Homo sapiens: one gene and its partner. Changing the gene in region 1 together with any one later gene gives a genetic interaction. Each region holds a gene or a part of one and is shown on either strand. Other genes may lie near its edges.

Evidence for each region. Genes that interact genetically often act in the same process or in processes that back each other up.
Region 2: changes in EDA (region 1) and ERBB4 together harm fitness less than expected from each alone (positive genetic interaction), as found in Homo sapiens cells (one large-scale study listed by BioGRID).

The regions. Positions count from the first base shown.
Region 1 is NC_000023.11:69,957,425-69,963,116, forward strand, and holds part of EDA (ectodysplasin-A), read left to right. Parts: intron 1-5,692. UniProt on the Homo sapiens protein: Cytokine which is involved in epithelial-mesenchymal signaling during morphogenesis of ectodermal organs. Functions as a ligand activating the DEATH-domain containing receptors EDAR and EDA2R. May also play a role in cell adhesion.
Region 2 is NC_000002.12:211,380,386-211,385,410, forward strand, and holds part of ERBB4 (receptor tyrosine-protein kinase erbB-4 isoform JM-a/CYT-1 precursor), read right to left. Parts: intron 3,676-5,025; coding exon 3,230-3,675; 3' UTR 1-3,229. UniProt on the Homo sapiens protein: Tyrosine-protein kinase that plays an essential role as cell surface receptor for neuregulins and EGF family members and regulates development of the heart, the central nervous system and the mammary gland, gene transcription, cell proliferation, differentiation, migration and apoptosis.

The sequences.
Region 1 (5,692 bases):
GCTGAGACTGTGCCACTGCACTCCAGCCTGGGTGACAGTGCGAGACTCCATCTCAAAAAAAAAAAAACAAAAAAAAAAAACCACTACCTTTTCAAGTGTGCTTCATCATCTTATATACTGTCCACCACAGACCCAAGGTCATAGACTATTTCTGCAGCCTAACCTACCAATCAGTCCTTTAACATAGAACTAACTATACAAGGATCCTCCCTCCTCCAACTCCAGATACCTTCAGTCCTTTCTCAGTATGTCTGAGAGCCATGATAGCATTTGTATCTCTCAAAATCACCCTCTATAAGGGCCTCATCTCTCCCGGAGATGTCCCACACCTATTAAGGTCAACAGGAGGATTTGGTTCTATTCTTGGAATTGACAGTGTTGTACCCTGCTAGCACTTACATGATGTGTTAATTCCAATGATAATTTTATCAATGTTGGTATCCACTACCATGCCCAAATCTGAACTAGACCTTCTAGAACTAGTTTATAAGTTTCTTGTGGGCAGAGATTTCATTTCTCTTTGTATAAGCCTAGAATCTAGCCTACTATCTGGAACATTGTTGGTGATTGTTATGTAAGTCGATGATGTTGACTGCCCCTTCAGCTAGGCAGTGATGTATCAATGGAAACCATCCCTGTTCTGGGTGTAATAGCTTTGAGTTAACTAGCAATGCATTCTGTGGGGCATAACAAAATGTTGAGCTAGCTCCTGGGCAGGGTCTTTGAATTGCTCTGATATTTCAGCATCACTCTGTCAATTGACATAATGCTACCCCTTTGGGCACAGGGGTTTGTAGAATACATAGCTCTGGGCTGCTGCAAAGGCATCTGGATTCAAAGACAGCATGTGTCTGGCTACATCTGCCAATAATATGTGTCTGGAGGGTTACAAAGCAATATGACTTTATACAGATGAAAATGAAAATTTTAAACTGACATTTGTTGATGTGAGTAAGGGCCACTGATGGAAGCAGTTTTAGAGGGCGGAAGCTATTAAAGAGATGGAGCCAGGACTTTGTCAGTAGGGGCAATAAGAAGTATAACTGGCTGAAATCTGAGAAAGAGCTCAGAACAAGGACCCCATAATAATACCAAAAAAAAAAAAAAAAAGAGCCAGAGCAGTAAGATAGGGTTTTCTAGTCAGTGGAGGTGGCAGCAGCATTGAGCCTTTGAATGGAGAACTGGACCAGTGGGGCCATTCTCTAGAGAAGTCATTTTGCATACAATTGATGACCAATTCAAGCCTAAGAAATGCAGTCCATGTAGTAAAAGTTACCCATTATTCACCTACTACTTGTAGCCAGTTTCCCAGAAGTCTTCTGGCTATGTGGAAGCAGGGAGCTAAGAAGCATGGACCCTTTCCTCTCCTAATCATCTCACCCTCTGATACATGTAAGTCTCTCCACCTTCAGCTTTTCCCCTGAGGCTACTCCCACAACCATCAAACTTTTCATAATCCCTGGTTGCAAAGGAAGAGAGGAGACAGGTGGTAAGAGCAATATCACCTTCTATAGTGGGCGTGGTCTTCCCTCCCTCTCTGAGTGGTAAGTCTAATGGCTTCTAAGGTTTACCTCTTCATCTAACCTCCGAAGTTTTCTCTTAAAGAAAATAATTTCCTCCTTTCCCTAAAACTACTTTATCCAAATTCAGCTACCAACGTCTCTGATACCGATCTTCCTTAGAATGTTTATTCTGTCCTAATACAAAACAGTTTTCTCTCTGGTCAAGGTCAAAGCCTCTCATTAATTTTTAGCACTTCTTATATACTTCCCTCCTGATCTGATACTCTAGTCAGTCACTAGACTCTAGTCTCTTGGTGCCAATGCCAAGTTTCTCATGCAGTCCAGGCATTTTTCTTTAATCAGTATAGCTTGGAGGAATCCAAGAGTCCCTTAGAGTTAGGAGTATAGAATGCCTGGGGGTCCTTGAATTTTATTAGATTTCCAACTTTTCACCTGGTGGTCTGTAGAACCATTTCTTTAGATGTGGCAGATGCTCCAATGAGTTAAAGAGTGGTAAGTCAATCCAAATCTCCTTTTCCTTTGAACCATTCTTGTTACTCTGATGAGCGTATACTATATTTATTCAATACACTCATCAAATATTTACTAAGTAAATACAGCAGTTTATATAGTACTTGAATAAACATTCAATAAGGATTTTTTTTAATATTCCCACTGCCTAGAAACAGACTTGGCACCTAGTAGACCCTCAATAAATATGTCCTGTTGCCCTCAAAGTGATTTACTTCCAGCATAAAGAGGCAGACAATAAATAAAGTTGGTTAAATTTGATAAGTGGTATGAAGAAAAATATAGCTGAGCAACAGGGAGAGAGAGTGATGGGGTATGCTGTAAGATGATCAAGGAAGGTACTCTGATAAGGGAACATTTGGGAAGAGACCTGAATGAAATGAAGTAAGAGCTATGCAAATGTCTGGGGAAAAAAGAAGCAGAAAATTCAAAGGCTCTGAAGCAGAAGAATGTTTGGTATGTTCCAGAAAGATCAGTGTGGCTGGGAGCAGAGTAAGAAGAGGAAGAGGGAAGGAGATGAGTTAAGAAAGCAAAATCCAATCTAGAGCCTTGTTGGCCAAGGTAAGGACTCTGGCTTTTATTCTGCATGAAATGGAGGACCACTGGAGGATTTTGAGCAGAGGAATGACAGGATCTGATGTATGTTTTAACAGCATTCCTCTGGCTGCTGTATTGAAAATAGGTGCAGGAAGAAAGGATACAAGCAGGAAGAATCTTTAGGAGAGTATTACAATAATCCAGGCAAGAGATGATGGTGGCTTAGACCAGGATGGAAGCAGTGTGGGTGGGGAGAAGTGGTCAGATTTTAGAGAGATTTTGAAGGAATGGCTGAAGGATTTTTCAGATTGATTAGATAAGGGATATGACAGACAGAGAAGAGGCATCAGTGACCCCAGGGTTTTGGACTTCAGGAACTAAACAGGTAGAATTGCCATTTCTGAGATGAGGAAGCAAAGGAGAGAAGCAGTGTAGAGGAATATGGGGAAAGAGTTTAGTTAGGCTTGTTAAATTTGAGGTAGCTATTAAACAGCCAAGTGGATATATAAGTCTACACTAAACATCACTGTGTATCATGAAAATAAGATGACTCTCTTTTGTACAAAGGACTTGTCATTGAAGAAGTGAGTCAGTCTGGAAACTGCTCTGAACAGAATAAGAGGTAGGATGGGATAGGTAAATCATAGTGGGGTGAGTTATGGCCAAAAAAAAAATCTTATCAGGTGTTGATTATAAATTCACAAATTACTTGATATGTTATAATAAAAATTTAACTATCTAAGCTCAGGTTTGCCTCACAAGTGTCAAAGAACAAGTCATTTACCTTGAAGAGTTAAGAACATGGCAGAAGTTCGTGACCAGCCTGGGCAACATGGTGAAACCCCGTCTCTACCAAAAATACAAAAAAAAAAAAAATAGCGGGGCACTGTGGCACACACCTGTAGTCCCAGCTACTCAGGAGGCTGAGGTAGGAGAATTGCTTGAGCCCAAGAGGCAGAGGTTGCAGTGAGCCAAGATCGTGCCACTGCACTTCAGCCTAGGCAACAGAGTGAAACTCCATCCAAAAAAAGAAAAAAAAAGAAAGAAAGAAAGAAAGAAAAAGAAAGTCTAGACCCTACTTCATTTGTTTGGTCATTCATCATTTAACAAATGTTTTTTACAGGTGCCCGCCACAACACCCAGCTAATTTTTGTATTTTTAGTAGAGACTGGGTTTCACTATGTTGGCCAGGCTGGTCTCGAACTGCTGACGTTGAGTGATCCGCCCACCTCAGCCTCCCAAAGTGCTGGGATTACAGGGGTAAGCCACTGCATCCAGCCTAGACTTTCTTTCTAGGAACTATAGATATTAAGCTTAATGATCTCCACAAATCCCTGTGAGAGAAAAAAATTTTTATAAACAGTTCATTAACTCTTGGAAACGGAAGGGATGTAGTGATCCTTAGGAGCTGCATAGGTTCACCAAGAACAAATCAGGCTGCAGAAGCCTATTTTCCTGTTTTCATCAGACTATTAAACTAGTTGATTAGAGGCATAGCATACACATAGTCTATCTTGCCTTTTAAAAAGAAAGTCAGTGGCAATATCCAGGGTATATACAATCTTTCTGACTCACCATTCAAGAATGACTAGGTTCATCTCAGTTTCTCCATTCAAATTACTTTATAAATGAAAGCATTGGCTAGCTAAGCAGGAGTCTCAAACACATGGTTAGTTTCAACTCTTAGAAAAGAAGTGAATTTCGTTTTCTTTACTACATTTCTTCCTTGAATTCACTGACTTGAGTTGGCCAGAAGTATTTCAGATCGTTTAAGTTTATTCGTACTAATTATGTGAGGCCTTTGGTTGTTGTTCTTCTTCAAAGAAAGTATGATACCTTCACTGTGGGTGTTGAGTCACAACAGTTCTAGAAATCTGTGCCAGGATTTCTTGCTGTGTCTTATCTTTGTGATGTGTTTCTGAAGTAATAATAGCTCCAGGTGGCTTGTTTGGTCATCTCTTGCACAGCACTCCAGAAATCCACAGAACTTTATTTTCTAGTTAGAATGAAATGTAGAATGTATTTGGGAGGTCATGAGGCCTTAGAATCAGGTAAAATGAATCCAGAATTCCCAAGGAGGTAGTTTCCATATTTCACAAATATTATTGTAAAAACATCTGTTCTCTTCCGATAGGAGCATTTTCAGGAGTTAATAAAAATCTTAATATCTCTCCACACCTGCCTGCCTTCCATGTTTCCGTCCTGGTAAGAGAATAAAATTGCAGCATGGTGTAATAGAAGAGGTACTAGACTGAGCTGCAATTTCTTGATTCCAATCTTGATGTCACTGCCACCTTACCAGCCATGTGAACTTGGAGAAGTCACGTACTTCTAAGCTTCAGTTTTCTTGTCCTTAAAACAGGGATAATTAGCCCTGCTTACCTCATAGAGTTGTTGTGTTTATCAAAAGTGTTAATGTCTGCAAAAGTACCTCATTTTATTTTATTTTATTTTTGAGAGGGAATCTCGCTCTGTCACGCAGGCTGGAGTGCAGTGGTGCAATCTCAGCTCACTGCAATCTCCGCCTCCTGGGTTCAAGTAATTCTCCTGCCTCAGCCTCCCAAGTAGCTGGGATTACAGGCACCCGCCACCACACCTGGCTAACTTTTATATTTTAGTAGAGGCAGGGTTTCACCTTGTTGGCCAGGCTGATCTCAAACTCCTGACCTCAAATGATCCTCACGCCTCGGCCTCCCAAAGTGCTGGGATCACAGGCACGAGCCACTGCACCTGGCCTACAAAAATACTTCAAAAATTATTAAGTGCTATTACTATGCTCTCTCTGGAAAATGAACACACTAGTATGGTGTGCCAGGCATTTGGGGCATTCACATTCCCTAATTTATGGACAACAATTATAATTTCTTCAGAAATGCTCTCTATCAGCCAAATTGCCCATTTTTGTTCTCACTCATGCTATCCAAGCCCATAGGAAGAAGACTCCAAGCCTCACACTATGGCCTACCTCATCACAGCAAATGATCACATCTGCACATTGCTCTGTGGCACTATCTCACTCTGGCTGGCTGGCTGTATATATGTATCCCTTTTTGTTAGTATTTCAGAAATTTCTCTTCCTTGTAGTTTACTTTTGGACATATCAAAAAACTTAGTATTCTTTT
Region 2 (5,025 bases), on another chromosome or scaffold:
TACAAAGTTGGGTGATTTAAAAAATATACTCCGTGTAATTTTAATACTAATTTGTCTCAGATTTACATAATTGATTCTGCAAATTTCAATTGCTACAATTGGCCTCTGGAATCTGATATCCCCCCAAGCACTTTGAAGACTTTAACTGACATTTTAAAATTCTACCCTACTGGACTAAATAAGTTATTCTCTGGAAGGAATGAAACTTTTTTTCTCCCTCTTATACATGCTGAAATATGTTTTCCCAGGGGGGACAAAAATAAAACAAAAAACACTCAAACAACTGAAGTCAATTATATACTACAGAAATCATTCAAAAGAATTATAAAGTGGTGCTATTATAAAGCATTTGGGTCATTTTGGATTATTCCTACATGCATCTCTAGGTATTACCCAACATGTAGAAGTCTTGTGTTCTTAGGAGGAAAGAGACATTCACTAAATACATTTCTGTTACCTTAACAGTTAAAAGTTTGTTTTAACTATTCATTTTTTCCTTCTCCAAAATGAGTGATTCTGCTTTCTATAGCCCAGTAGAAACCATATGCATATTGTAAATCAGAAAAAAAAAATCAAGGTATAGTATCCAAAAAGAGGGCTGTGATGACTCGATGCAGATTTATTTAGAAAGGGAGGCTTATATTCAATTTTTCATAAGTACTGATATGAGATCCCTTTTCCTAGAGACTTCTCTGAATGGATAGGAGAGCCCTGAGCTATTAGATTGTGGCCCCTGAATCACTCTGTGTCTTTACCCCTGAAAAGTTTGAGGGTGAACTTCACTAGAAGGAATCTCACAAACCCTTCTCCTGCTCTACCATACTTTTTCAGCTCGCCTCACTTCTTATAGCTTAGAAAAAAACCAACTCCAATGTCTCCAATATTCTTGGCCAAGGACCACCATCTGCTTTTGGTTTAATGGTGAAGTTAGACTCTAGATAGGCTAATTAGTCAGTGATGCAATATTCTCCTAGACCAGTTTATGTTTGAATAATATTATTGAAATTATCCTGTTTGTCAACATCAACAATTTGAAGGATGTTTAACTTATATCCCAAATGAGTTTAAAGGAGATATCTTACAGTACAACTGATTATATGACAGCTATTCACAAAAGAGACTATGCAATCTGATTGTTGGAACGCATAGAAAAATTAAAATGTCATTTTAATTAAATCTCCTAGATCATAGAATTTTGAAGTTGAGGATGATATTCCATTTATCTGAGTGTTCCCCACAAAACATGGTGCTTTTAGTAGACACAGTTAGATAAAGGAGGTTTGGATGGATGGATGGATGGATTTACTTGTTCAGAATAGGAAGAAACACAAATTTCTTTGGATTTTTTTCTCTAAACTTTCTCTGCCTTAATAGATATTTTTACTCTAATTAATTAATCTTATACTATTGATTCTAATTTGGTCCCAATATTTTAACATTAGAAATATTTTTTAAAAATCTAAATGACTTGGGGTAGAATTTTCAGAAAAGGGCGACTTATATCTAAGTTTCCTAATTATTGATGTGAGGCCCCCTTTACTTGGAGACTCATCTCTGTCATTTGTTCTCATCCTTCATCTCATCAGGTATTCTTTCAAAATGATACATAATAATGATGGTTCTAGTACTGGATGCAGTATATGAAGAAAGGGAATTATATAAAGTATCAAAAGATTAGTGTGTTGGATAATAAAATAATTGCATGAGAAGATGTTTCACATTTATTTACAACTTTTGACCCAAGGACCTATCCCTAAGCTTTGAATGTTTGTGTTTTTCTTTTTATTATACCAATTTATGTGCAAAGAGTTACCTTCTACTTCATATAAATAGTCTCATACTAGAAATTCCATGGAATTCAAGCCAATCCTTACTCGCATTCCTTCTTACGAAGTATACGAACTGAACAAATTTCCTTGCGTAGCAAAGGTGACATATGAAGATAATGTGCTGGCCTCTCATCATAGTCCCTGGATACCGTTGCAAGGTTCCTAATTTGCTTGGTTTGGCATTTCCACAGTCTTTATCTTAGCTCTTTTTTTAAAAATGTACTTAAATTAGTTAATTTGCTGGTTGCTTCCATATTGCTTGATTCAAAATCCAAAATGGAGTTCAGAAAAAGAACAAATAAAATTACAGCTTAAGTGCAAACTACATTTCTGAGTATCTGCCAGGTAGACATACCCAATCCAGTGTGTTTCTTCCAGTTCAATGGATTCCCTCATTGGGCCACCCCTGAAAGTATCAGTAGTTTTCCTGAACCACAGAGAACTGTCTCTTAGTTTCCCTTCTACTCTTCAGACAACCAACGGCCTATCAAGTAGTGTCATTTATGGAGAAAAAAAAATGTTGAAAAATGTAAAGGATGAGGGTGAAGATAATTTGATAGCATGAAAAATATTAGCCTCCCTTTCTTATTTTAAAGATTGTATACTTAAAGTAGTGGCCATTTCACTATATTAAAATATTTCTTGCTTAAATTCTGTGAAGAAGCTTTGATGTAAACATCTTTGCAATTAGAAATTAAAGCCAAAAATAGGGGAGCAAATATAAAGGAATCGGTCAGAGCAAAACAAAATGAAAAAAACCAAAAAGTGTTGAAAACATAATTACTAGTTATAACTTTAATGGAGATTTTTAAATTATGAAAGTTGAGTTGGCCATTCTTACTTGCTAGGACAGAAACTGCTGGGGAAAGAAACTGGATTCTCAATTTCAGACACCATCATATGTTATAGAAAATGTTATTCTTTTGTTCTAATGGAAACTTTATTATGATTTCCAGGGATGCTAAATATGCACACATCAGTTCCTGCAGATAGGAACAGATAGCATGGGTGTTTCAACCATCTGCTTTAAAAAAAAAAAAAAAAAAGAAGAGGAAGAAAGAAACAAAGAAAGAAAAAGAAAAAGAAAAAAAGTGACAGCTAGTTTGATAGTAGGCAGCATTGCCTTACATTTTCTGGTCCTTCTCTAGCTGTTTCATTCTCCTGACCAACCCATGCAGAGAAATGAAGAAACATTGTGGTTCCTCCTATCTTTCTCTTTCAGTCTTTCCCTCTAATGTTCAAGTTAGGTAAGCACATAACTATCATTGCATCTCTGTATCTTCCACTGGGAAGTGTCAAAACTACTGGCCTTGGGGTAGAAGGAAGACCACCAGAGAAAGAGAGGGGGGTGGGGAAATTGGAGCAGGTGTGTCTCTCCACCTAAAAAACCACAACTGAGCTTACACCACAGTATTCCGGTGTCTGTAAGGTGGAGGCGGCAGCACAGTGCCTGGCTTCAGGGAGAACTCAGAGAGGTATTCAGGATTCTCTGCCACAATAGGCCGGATCCGCCCATTCTGTTTATAAAAATATTTTGTGCTGTACTCCTGCAGGTAGTCTGGGTGCTGAAGGGTGCTCCGAGGTGGCAGGCTGTGGTTCCAGTAGTCAGGGTTGTCAAACGCTTTCTTGGCCTTCTCTGGCATTGACAGTATGTTGTTCTTCAGGTACTCAGCTTTTCCCAAGGTGTTGGCAAAGGTGTTGAGGTACAGTGGCTCATTCACATACTCATCCTCGGCCTTGGGTGGACCATTGGATGCATTGTGATATTCGGGATTATCCAATGCTTGAAGGTCTCCATTTTTTCTCCGAGAAACAAAAGGGTTCTCCTCCACTGGATTCAGGTATTCTAAAGGAATAAAAAAATATCAGCTAACCTCTAGTTTCTGGAAAATATTAATCAGACCAAGGTTATACATAATGGTTAGCTTCTTTGTCTAGAACAAAAAAACCCACAGATTTGTTTTCATGATTTCTCACAACAAGTATTTGTGGATCACCATTGTCTTATGAAAAAAAGAGTAAGTGGGTCAAAAATGTTTATAATAAAACAAGAAGCCAACGAGGCCAGAATCAGAATTTCTATCTCCTAAATTTTTCTTTCTTTCTAATTGCATTTGTCTCTTCTGCATATGGGGCTGGTTGTTTCAATGTTTTTGTTTTCTAAAAGTTATTTATATTAGGAAATAAGACTACCTATTAGGATTAAATAGTCTTTAAATATACAGACAACTTAACTTCTATAAAGGATATTGAAAAAACAAGAATCTATAGCTGAGTTCCATGCCAAGATGAATAGATGGAGTGAAGAAATCATGTTTTTTAGTCTCTATGGTTTGCTATGATTGCCTATACTGGTAACAAGGATTTAATTGGAGATGCTTCTGAAAAAGGTTTTACACATGGAAAAGAAAGCATCAAAGGAAAAAAATTCAACTAAAAAAGCAAATCTAACAGATAGCTAACATGCCTCTAGTTGACCTGCTTGACATTACATATACTTCTACTTAATAGTAAAGTATAATTATAATATTTCCATTGACCAATCATAATCACAAAGTAGCAAACTATCAGCTTGAATTATATAAAATAAAATAAATTTTGTATATTGAAACCAGTCAATTAGTGCCTATTTTGTACGGATCAATCTAATAAATCCATCTAGTATAGGTATTGGCCTAAAAGGTGCTAATAATTATCACCATTCTCCTGAAGCTTAATTCCACATCTATGTCTATAATATAGACTGCACATAGACATAAACACGCATGTATTGTAAGTCCTCTGACAGTCCTCTCTTTTACTATATACACAAAGCCCTAAGCTATTCCTATTTTGAATTCAAGGCATGAAGAGGGCACAATTCTTTGTTGAGAGGCCATTCTGAAACAAACTTTCTGTCTTTTATCCTTAGCCCAATAAGTAGAGAGAAAAATCCTATTAAGTGAGGATTATTTTTCTCCAAATATATATATACAGAATAGGTAAGTATTTAGCATCATTTATTCAACTTAAAGGGCAGTAATGAATATCCCACTATCATATATAGGCCTTTACAAGACACTATCATTTCATCCTCCCAATTCTGTGAAAAAGAAGTACAAGACTTATTTTTCCAGCTTTGTAGACAGAAAAATGAGATTAAATGATGTGTGCAGGATACAATTAGTGTTGGGATAGAATTCAGGTCTTCTAACTC